Linked DNA regions of Homo sapiens: region 1 is linked to region 2. Evidence: fine-mapped expression QTL. A gene starts in region 2. The other region holds a variant in brackets. All regions are shown on one strand. Distances are between the middles of the regions. Region 1 has its middle 12 kb from the start of INO80D. Region 2 holds the start of NDUFS1 (NADH:ubiquinone oxidoreductase core subunit S1).

What was found. PIP is the estimated chance that this variant, and not a neighbour inherited with it, causes the effect.
Region 1: its variant is the best candidate, but not a certain one, in a credible set for the expression of NDUFS1 in lung (TOPMed, PIP 0.67).

Annotation. Positions count from the first base shown.
Region 1 is chr2:206,095,035-206,100,415 of GRCh38, forward strand. No RefSeq gene overlaps it. Among named protein-coding and RNA genes, the nearest start is that of INO80D, 12 kb to the left of the region's middle. The variant T/C (reference allele first, on the strand shown) is at 3,243.
Region 2 is chr2:206,156,744-206,162,124 of GRCh38, forward strand. NDUFS1 (NADH:ubiquinone oxidoreductase core subunit S1) reads right to left here and starts at 2,701. Exons shown (of 19, transcript NM_005006.7): 1 at 2,598-2,701. It overlaps EEF1B2 (eukaryotic translation elongation factor 1 beta 2), which reads left to right and starts at 3,152. Exons shown (of 6, transcript NM_001959.4): 1 at 3,152-3,316; 2 at 3,845-3,967; 3 at 4,603-4,729; 4 at 5,295-5,361. The coding sequence starts at 3,237. It overlaps SNORD51 (small nucleolar RNA, C/D box 51), which reads left to right and starts at 5,138; the gene lies at 5,138-5,207. RefSeq lists enhancers at 2,379-2,788, 2,899-3,158 and a silencer at 3,419-3,488.

The DNA.
Region 1 (5,381 bases), 62 kb before region 2:
AGATCCTCTTGATATGTAAGCTTTTATAAATATAAGCTTTTGAAAATATAAGCTCCACGAAGCCTGGAGATTTTGTCTTTTTTTGTTTTGTTTTTGTCTAGTTTGTTCATTTGGCCTCTTGAACACTGCCTGGGATGAAATATACACCGTAAATATTTGTTGGATTAATGAATATTTGAGATTTTGGATTCTTTACTATTTGATAATTAAGGTATGGCTTTTAGATGGTTAAATGAGAAGGACTCTGAGGAATTGAGCATGGACTTTCTAACCATCTCACTACAAAAGTCCAAGATGATTAGCAAAATATCTGTGTAATTCTAGTTATTTCAGCCACCCTCAAGCATTATATTCCAATTGGCCATACTCTAGTTTAAAAACCTGGGAGTGGTATTAAGTATTCTTTTTCTTTTCTATTGACATATTTCTGTTGTGCATTTCTATTGCCAAAGATACTTAAAACGTGTGCATATCCTAGGTTATTTTAAGATGACTAGCCGTACAGGTCAAAAAATTTAAAAATGGAATATAAGAGAATCACCTGGAGTAAAAAGCAAACATAGAAGATGTAAAAATATATATGGTTGCCATTATAGCCTTTTGTGTGGAAACTCTAGCATATTTGAGCAAACATCTTTGAGTATTCCCTTTTCACATTTTGTAGGACATGATCAGATATACCATCTGCTTCTCTGGGTAACTTGGCAGCTGTTAATTGACTAACATTCCCTGAGTTCTGTTGTCACCATCAGTGGTTCTAGAACATAAGAACAAAAAAAGATTGTAAGAATAGCCTTCATAACCCAAGTTTCCTTTAAATCATAGAGAGAAAAAAAATAAGAACCTATATTGACCAACTGGGAAAAACTAAAGGAATATTTACATAATCATAAGTCATTTTAATTTTCTCTAAGGCTATTACTACAATATATCTAAATATTTTAAATGTATATATAAAGCAAGAGCAATTAAGTAATTTAATACCAACAGAATTTATATTTCAAATGGGGGGAAAATGGATCATCTCATTTTGTGGTAAGATATACAGATGCTTCCTGTTGCCCTGTCCAGAATGATGTTAACATTAACCTCAGAGGAGGCCGTTAAGCCAGCGTTGAGCTAGACAGTAACCATTATGTCTCTCTCTATTGAGGAGGAGGGGAAAAATGATGTTACCTAAATTTATGAGCTGCAAACTGAACACTTCATACAATGATGATCAATGATATGATAAGTTATCATTCAATTTCTACGGTTTGTGTCCTCTCTGAAATGAAGCTAAGAAAAAAAATTGTAGGGAAATAACAGACTGCCGTTTGCATTATTAGAAAGCTCACGTAACTGCACTATGCAGGCCATTTGTCTTTTTTTTTTCCTGTTAGAAGGGAGTTTTTATTTTCTCTGAATCAAACTATTAGAGTAATACATTACTGAGTTCATTTTTGCTTCTATCTCTTTATCTTGACTTGAGTTCAGAAAACTTGGAACATGTGCATTCTTTTAAGCTGTCTGAAAGGATTTTGTGTATTTATGGTTTTACATGCCGAGCTATTTTTCCTCAGAAATTCTGACATCAAATGTGTGAATTTTTTCTCACACCAACCAATTCTCCAACTTTCCGGACACCAACGGGGTATCCTACAATTCAATTCAATTCTAACATTAACGGCCCAGCATTAGCAGCAGACTCCACAGGTTTTAAAGAGTCCTCAATTCCAATGCCATTCGCAAGTATTGGGTCCCCAGGTTACCCACACACACTTCTTGGGTACAAAGTCAGGGAGTTCCCACAACTTTCTCCCCTTCAGCTTGATAATTTGCTACAATGACTCACAGAACTCAGGAGCACTCTTATATTAATATTTACTGGCTCTTTATAAAAGATATAACTTGGGAACAGCCAAACAGAAGAGATGCAGAGAGCAAGATATTGGCAGGGGTGTTGGAAGCCCCGCGCCCTCTCTGGGCACACCACCCTCCTAGCAATTTGATGTGTTCACCAACCCAGAAGCTCACTGAACCTGTCATTAGGGGTTTTTATGGAGGTTTTGTCAAATCAGGATGACCAATTATTAACTCAGTCTTCAGCTCTTCACACTTCCCCACATATTGAGGGGATGGGCTGAAAGTTCCAGGCTTCTCATCAAGGTCTAGTCTTTCTGGTGACCAGGCCCCATCCTGAAGCTATCTAGGGCCCCAGCAAGAAACCTCAGTAGAACAAAAGATGCTTCTATCAACCAGGAAATTCCAAGAGATTAAGGAGCTCTGTGTCGGAAACTGGGGACAGAGACCAAATATTAGAACAAACGACGCTCCTATCATCCCTATCACTCAAGAAATGGCAGTTTTAAGAGCTCTGTGTCAAAAATCAGGGACAAAGTCCAAATAGATAGATAGATAGATACACATATATATACATATCTCTCTCTCTATATATATACACATATATATCTATTTCTTACTATGTCACACATGCTAACTCCTTATTCTGAAATAAAAGCAAAAAGCAAACACCAAACCAATAACAAAAAGCCTCCACAATGTACAGGTGTTATGGGGTCACATCATGATAAACCTATTGCGAATTGGGAATATTCTTAAATAAAAAATGCATTTAATGTACCTAATCCACCAAACATCATAGCTTAGCCTAGCCTACCTTAAATGAGCTTGGAACACTTACAATAGCCTACAACTGGGCAGAATCATTAAACACAAAGTCATTTTACAATGAAGTGTTGGCTGGACGCAGAGGCTCATGCCTATAATCCCATCACTTGGATACTGAGGCAGGAAGATTGGGCCGGGCACGGTGGCTCACGCCTGTAAGCCCAACACTTTTGGGAGACTGAGGCAGGTGGATCACCTGAGGTCAGAAGTTCGACACCAGCCTGGCCAACATGGTGAAACCACGTCTCTACTAAAAATACAAAAATTAGCTGGGCGTGGTGGCAGGCACCTGTAATCTCCTAGCTACTCCGGAGGCTGAACCAGGAGACTTGCTTGAACCCAGGAGGCGGAGGTGGCAGTTAGCCAATATCGTGCCATTGCACTCTAGCCTGGGCGGCAGATCAAGACTGTGTCTCAAAAGAAAAAAAAAAAAAAAAACTGGACGACTTAGTACAGATGGTCCCTGATTTACCATGGTTTGACTTAGGATTTTTCAGCTTTACCATGGTAACCATACAACTATTCTGTCTTTCAGTACAGAACTCAATGAATCGGCCGGGTGCAAGTGCCCG[T/C]CTGTAATCCCTGCACTTTGGGAGGCCGAGGCGGACGGATCACGGGGTCAGGAGATCGAGACCATCCTGGCTAACACGGTGAAACCTTGTCTCTACTAAAAGTACAAAAAATTAGCCGCGCGAGGTGGCAGGCGCCTGTAGTCCTAGCTACTCGGGAGGCTGAGGCAGGAGAATGCCGTGAACCTGGGGAGCGGAGCCTGCAGTGAGCCGAGATCGGGCCACTGCACTCCAGCCTGGGAGACAGAGCGAGACTCCGTCTCAAAAAGAAAAAAGAACTCTTTTTTTTTTGACAGAGTCGTGCTCTGTTGTCCAGGCTGGAGTGCAGATCTTGGCTCACTGCAGTCCCGACCTCCCAGGCTCAAGTGATCCTCCCACTTCAGCCTCCTAAGCGGTGAGTAGCTGGGACCACAGGTGCCCCACTATGCATGGCTAATTTTTTTGTTTTTCTTTTTGTAGAGACAGGGTCTCAATACGTTGCCCAGGCTGGTCTCGAGCTCCTGGGCTCAAGCAATCCTGCCAATTAGCTGGGATTATAGACATGTGCCACCATGCCCAGCATATATTTACTTTCATTAATCTATACTACTGCATCAAAATTATTATAATGTTGTGGCATGTTAAGTCTTTTTTTTTTCTAAGACAGAGTTTCACTCTTGTTGCCCAGGCTGGAGCGCAATGGCGCAATCTTGGCTCACCGCAACTTCCGCCTCCTGTGTTCAAGGGATTCTCCTGCCTCAGCCTCCGGAGTAGCTAGGATTACAGGCACGTGCCACCACGCCCGGCTAATTTTGTATTTTTAGTAGAGACGGGGTTTCTTCATGTTGGTCAGGTTGTTCCTGACCTCAAGTGATCCGCCCGCCTCGGCTTCCCAAAGTGCTGGGATTACAGGCGTGAGCCACCTCGCGGACTGCATGTTAAGTCTTTTGAAGCAGGCCGGGCGCGGTGGCTCACGCCTTTAATCCTAGCACTTTGGGAGGCCAAGGTGGCTGGGTTGCCTGAGCTCAGGAGTTCAAGACCAGCCTGGGCAACACGGTGAAATCCCGTCTCTACTAAAATACAAAAAAGTAGCTGGGCGTGGTAGTGTGCGCCTGTAATCCCAGCTACTCGGGAGGCTGAGACAGGAGAAACTCTTGAATCCAGGAGGCGGAGGTTGCAGTGAGCCGAGATTACCCCACTGCACTCCAGCCTGGGCGACAGAGCAAGACTCCGTCAAAAAAAAAAAAAAGGCTCTTGAAGCACACTAACTCTTCCAAAATTAAGCTCCCTTAAAGGAAAATAGAATTATTAAAATGAAAACAGTAAGCAACATAACTGTTACTATTTCAGCTAAGAATCTTAAAGCACATTACAGACACTTTTCATCTTAACAATTGGAAAAAACAAGTACTAGCAAGTGAATTGCTTAAGATTACATAGACTAGCCCAATTCTAGAGAGAAATAATTCAAGTGTATCTTATTGTCATCTTGTTGTTAAGTACAGACATATTCAGATTTCACCAGTTTCCCACTAATGTTCTTTTTCTTTTTTCTTTTCTTTTTTTGAGACAGGTTCTCACTCTGTTGCCAAGCTGGAGTGCAGTGGCACAATCACAGCTCACTGCAGCCTTGAACTCCTAGACACAAGTGATCCTCCTACCTCAGCCTCTCAAGTAATTGGGACTGCTGACTTGAACCACCATGCCTGGCTATTTTTTATTTTTTAGTAGAGATGGAGTCTTGCTGTGTTGCCCAGGCTGCTCTTGAACTCCTTGATTCAAGTGATCCTCTTGCCTCAGCCTCCCAAAGTCCTAGGATTACAGGCATGAGCCACTACATTTGACCTAATGTCCTTTTTCTCTTCCAGAGAGTTAATCTTTCCTTGTCTTTCATGACCTTGACATTTTTGAAGAGTTCTAGTCAGTTACTTGGTATAACTGTCCCTGAGTTTGGGCTTGTCTTATGTTTTCTCATGATTAGATGAGTTAATATATTTTTGGCAAGAATCTCAGACATGATGTCCTATCAGGGAGTACATGATGTCAAAATGTGTTATTACAGACAGTTTATGTAGTTTTGTTTTCTTTCTTTCTTTCTTTCTCCTCTCCTCTTTCTCCTCTTCTCTTTTTCCTTTTTTTTTTTTTTTTTTTTTTTTGAGACTG
Region 2 (5,381 bases):
CATAAATTTCATTAATTAAGAATATGTGATACTGAAATTGCAAATATCCAATCTGTTTCCTGCTAGTGAGTAATGTTGGGTAAATGAGTTTCTGGTTCTTTACTTATAGAGCAGGAGGAAAACAATACTTCCTAGACAATGAGCTATTAGTAGGGGCTCAACAAATGCCAGTTAAAGCTGAATTCAACTTAGGCAATACTGGCCACTGACAATCAGTATGTGTGTGTGTTTTGAGACAGAGTCTCACTCTGTCACCCAGGTTGTAGTGCAATGGTGTGATCTTGACTCACTGCAACCTCCGCCTCCCAAGTTCAAGCAATTCTCTTGCCTCCCAAGTAGCTGGGATTACAGGCACCTGTCATCACGCCCGGCTAATTTTTGTATTTTCAGTAGAGAAGGGGTTTCGCCATGTTGGCCAGGCTGGTCTCAAACTCCTGACCTCAGTGATCCACCCGCGTCGACCTCCCAACGTGTTGGGATTACAGACGTGAGTCACCGCGCCTGGCAGACAACCAATTTTAAAGCACTCTTTCTTTGAGCTCTTTTTCTTTAGTACCAGTACACACTGTGTAGATATTTTTGTTTTACTTACTAAACTGTAGGTTAGTAATCAATTTTAGTACCTACCAGACTGTAAGCTCCTTGAGGACAAGGAATTTGGACATTTCCCTTTTTTGAAGACCTAGCACAGGACCCTTATGAAAATAACCACCAAACAGTCTTATCACCAAGTTCTAGAACTAGAGTAGCATCTGTCCTATTAAAAACTACTGATGGCATAAATATAAACCTAAACTTACTCCATTAGAGCACTGACAGATTTGAAATCAACAATCAGTATTTCATACAATTTTAAAACTTTAATACTTTTTTATCTCCAATGCAATATAAAAATAGTACTCACTTTGGATAGGAAATCAACTAGAACTAGACTGTTGACATCCAGCAACAAAGCATAGCCCAACATAAGAAATACAGATTTGCAACACTTCGATATGTGCTTTGAACATTGATATGCCAAGTAGCAATAGAAATAATTATCTCTTTGGATGGAAAATGTTAATGACTAATCATTTCTTAAACTAGACTGGATACTTTTCCATATAGGGACTATGCTATTCCACGTTCTCCAACATGGATCCATCCATTTACTTCTTGCCTTCCAAGGTACCACCCTATCCCAATCCACCATCACTCCTTGCCTGGAGTATTTCAATAGCTTTTTTTTTTTTTTTTTTGAGACAGAGTCTCGCTCTGTCGCCCAGGCTGGAGTGCAGCGGAGCGATCTCGGCTCACTGCAAGCCCCGCCACCCGGGTTCACGCCAGCCTCCTGCCTCAGCCTCCCAAGTAGCTGGACTACAGGCGCCCGCCACCACGCCCAGCTAATTTTTTGTATTTTTAGTAGAGACAGGGTTTCACCGTGTTAGCCAGGATGGTCTCGATCTCCTGGCCTCGTGATCCGCCCGCCTCGGCCTCCCAAAGTGGTGGGATTACAGGAGTGAGCCACCGCCTCCGGCCTTCAATAGCTTAACAGGTCACCAAGCTTCCACACTATTCCCACACAGCCTCTCCCCTCTTGCCACCGGCTGTGACCTCAGACTGAAATGCTCTTCCCTGGCCCCTCCTTATCCTTCAAATCTTGGCTTAAAAGCCTTTTCTCAGTTTCATTGACCAGGCTATCTAACATTTACGATTCCCCCAGCATATCATCCATTTTATTCTTCTTTACGGACTCATTTCTGGCTCGTAGTAAATGTTCAATAACGGTTAAGTGAACTGAATCTCTAATTTCTGGTCGTTAATTTGTAGAGACCACTTTCCCGGATTTAAAAAGTGCAGGTGCTCTGGCAGCCTTAAGTCGGTGAAAACAAGAATATTCCGCAAAACAAAAATAACTTGTTTATTCATCAAAAACAGTTAACGTTACACTTCTATACCGTCAATTCGTGTGTGAACAGAGTTGTGTCTGATCCAAGACCTTACAGTTCAAGCACTGGATCCCAATAACCTGTAAACAACGTTTTGTTATTTGCAATGCAATCCTGGGCTAACTTTTCAAAAGTCGTTTTTCTCAATTTCCCGTTAGTTAAAGGAATAAAAAAATGCTGTCCAACGTGGTCAATGGACCAAACAAACAAGGACAACAAACAGAAGCGTGAGCCATTGCTAACACAACAGCGACCAAACAATCATGCACTGTATCAGGCGTGTAAAAATCTGGGGGGAAAGGCTTAGTCTTAAGGCCTAAGTCATCGGACACTGGTCCTCTCCCGGGGAATAAAACGGCCTCCTCCTCTGAGAGGGAAATGTCCTGAATTTTCCCTGCAGAGGGAAGGTCACCTGCAAGCCTACATTCGTGACAGCGTTCCCGAGGACCCCCTGATCCTCATCTTCTTTTCTGCTTCATCAGACCAGAGACCGTGGCTAAAAGCCCCCCATCTGCCGGCTCTCAGGGGCTTCCGAGGCGGCGGGGCGGGAGGCGGCGCCCAGTCAAGGACAACAGAAGACTACGTCGCGTGGGCCAAAGGAAACAGTCCCGTCAATAAATAAGCCTCTGGCCGACGCACCTCACCCTTCCCATCCATACAAGACCTCACCTTCTCCCCGGAGCCGCGGAGGCTGTTCTGCTAAACTGTCTGGACCACGACGACCCCCTAGGAGGCCGGGTCGCTTATTCAATATGGCGGCCTCGGCTAACTCTGTCAGCCGGGCCTGGAGAACGGAAAGCCCGGAGGGACTAGAATCCTTGCATTCGACAAGTTTGTCGGCAATTTCCGTCAGCCGACCAGAGGGCGGAGCTGAGGTCGGCCCAGCCCGGAGGCGGGAAGGACAACTTGGACCCGCAGTTCCGCCGGAAGTGGCCCCAGCCTCGAGGCCGGGCGTCTTCGGTCATCTCCGGCGCTTCTAGGGCTGGTTCCCGTCATCTTCGGGAGCCGTGGAGGTACGAACTTAAGACATGCCTATTTTATTAATTTACTTCCAAACGCAACGAAAGGTCCATGGACAATTTGTGGGCCATTTAATTCAGGGCCCCCAATTCGTACGTGGAGAAGTGGGAATGCAAAAGTACTTTGACCTTTAACCTTCGGTCCGGCGCGGTGGAGGGAAACGCCTCCGTCTCTATATAAGGAATTTTCCGGTCTCTTCGGGTCCTTTTTCCTCTCTTCAGCGTGGGGCGCCCACAATTTGCGCGCTCTCTTTCTGCTGCTCCCCAGCTCTCGGATACAGCCGACACCATGGGTTTCGGAGACCTGAAAAGCCCTGCCGGCCTCCAGGTGCTCAACGATTACCTGGCGGACAAGAGCTACATCGAGGGGTGAGCGGACGGGCTGAGTCGGGGTGGCGGGGAGGTTTCTCCGCCCGGGGCCGGGGCCACGTGGCGCAGCGTGTCGGCTGCCGCGGGAGGGAGGGAGGCCGGGCCCGGGGCCCTTTCGAGAGGGAGGGGAAAGCGCCCCGTTGCCGTCTCCCAAGGCCCTCGTGTGGGGCGAGCCCGGCCTCCGGGGAGCGGTTCACGAGCAAGGAAAGGTTAAAATGTGCTTTATTTACACTTAATTCAGCCAGGTGTTTCCGCATCGCTGCCCAGTTAATACATGTTAAGCTGTAGATAGAGCAACGCCAGACATTGCAGTATTTGAGGTCTACTTAGTGGCAGACATTTCTCAGGATAGCGCGGTGACCCAAACATATGGTTTGATTTGAAGGAGCTAATAAGAAAAGAAAAGCATTAAAGCAACCCTGCTGGGGTTAGTGCCCACTAATTAATGTGATGCATACGGTATTTATTATTTATTCGCTGGCGTTTGTTTTTCAAAGGTGTGTGTGAATGTTTCTGTGTCCTTGGCAGGTATGTGCCATCACAAGCAGATGTGGCAGTATTTGAAGCCGTGTCCAGCCCACCGCCTGCCGACTTGTGTCATGCCCTACGTTGGTATAATCACATCAAGTCTTACGAAAAGGAAAAGGCCAGGTAAAATCATCTTTGTATAGAGCTGAAGAATAAGACTGCTCTCGAAGTTTATCAGGATGTTCACATGACAAAACTGGACCCAGGCTACTTTAGTTTTGTTGGGATATTGTAAGCTAAATTTTTCTGTAACCTTAGAAGGCCAAGAGACTGAAGCCCTCCATTTTTTCACAGAACAGGTAGAACATGGACAGCAGCAATTCAACTTTTCCCCACACTGCCCTGCCAATGTGCCTCGACCTTGACCTGGGGGGCCCACCTCTGGGGTGAGAGGGTGGCTCATTCATTCAGTCCTTGGCCATTCTTCTGAAACTGCCAACAAGGGTGGAAGTTTGGGGAAGTGGACTCCAGTTCACTAAGAATGGAACTGAGCATACTTAATGAAATCTCAAACAGAAATGTTCATACTGAAAGAGTAAATCATAGTGAGTATTGAAAATAATGTCTCACATGGTACTAATGCTTGTCGGGTGAGGAGTTGAACATATGACAGTGTTTACCTGGGCGCATGTGAAAGGGTAAATTATGATTGCAAAAGGGATCTAGTGATAAGTAGTGATTAAAACAAGTTATTTTGTATTTTCTGGAAAAGGATGTTATACTAGCTCAATAGTGGTTGAATTTAAATGTTTTTCAAGCCTGCCAGGAGTGAAGAAAGCTTTGGGCAAATATGGTCCTGCCGATGTGGAAGACACTACAGGAAGTGGAGCTACAGATAGTAAAGATGATGATGACATTGACCTCTTTGGATCTGATGATGAGGAGGTATGGCGTCTTCTATAAAGAACATATCGGCCAGGCGCAGTGGCTCATGCCTGTAATCCCAGCATGTTGGGAGGCTGAGGCGGGTGGATCACGAGGTCAGGAGTTGAAGACCAGCCTGGCCAAGATGGTGAAACCCTGTCTGTACTAAAAATACAAAAAAATGTGGCAGGCATCTGTAATCCCAGCTACTCAGGCGGCTAAGGCAGAGAATTGCTTGAACCTAGGAAGCGGAGGTTGCAGTGAGCCAAGATCGTGCCACTGCATCCAGCCTGGGCGACAGAGCGAGACTCCGTCCCAAAAAAAAAAAAAAAGAATACATCGATCAGCAATTGTATCAATGTGGTTAAGCCAAATTGCCTGGATTTGAATCCTGGCTTTAATTTATATGCCTTTTTCAAATTCTGACTGGTTGCATGATGAATAAAATCAAATCACCATCTTTCGGCTGAGTTCGTGATGGATTTGCTTTTTTCTGATTAAGCCAGTCTTTTTTGTGATGACCCCACTAGCTTTAAGCAGAGGAACAACCAGCTTTCTGAAGTGGATTAATTTTTTTTCTTTACAGGAAAGTGAAGAAGCAAAGAGGCTAAGGGAAGAACGTCTTGCACAATATGAATCAAAGAAAGCCAAAAGTAGGTCATTTGTTTTTAAC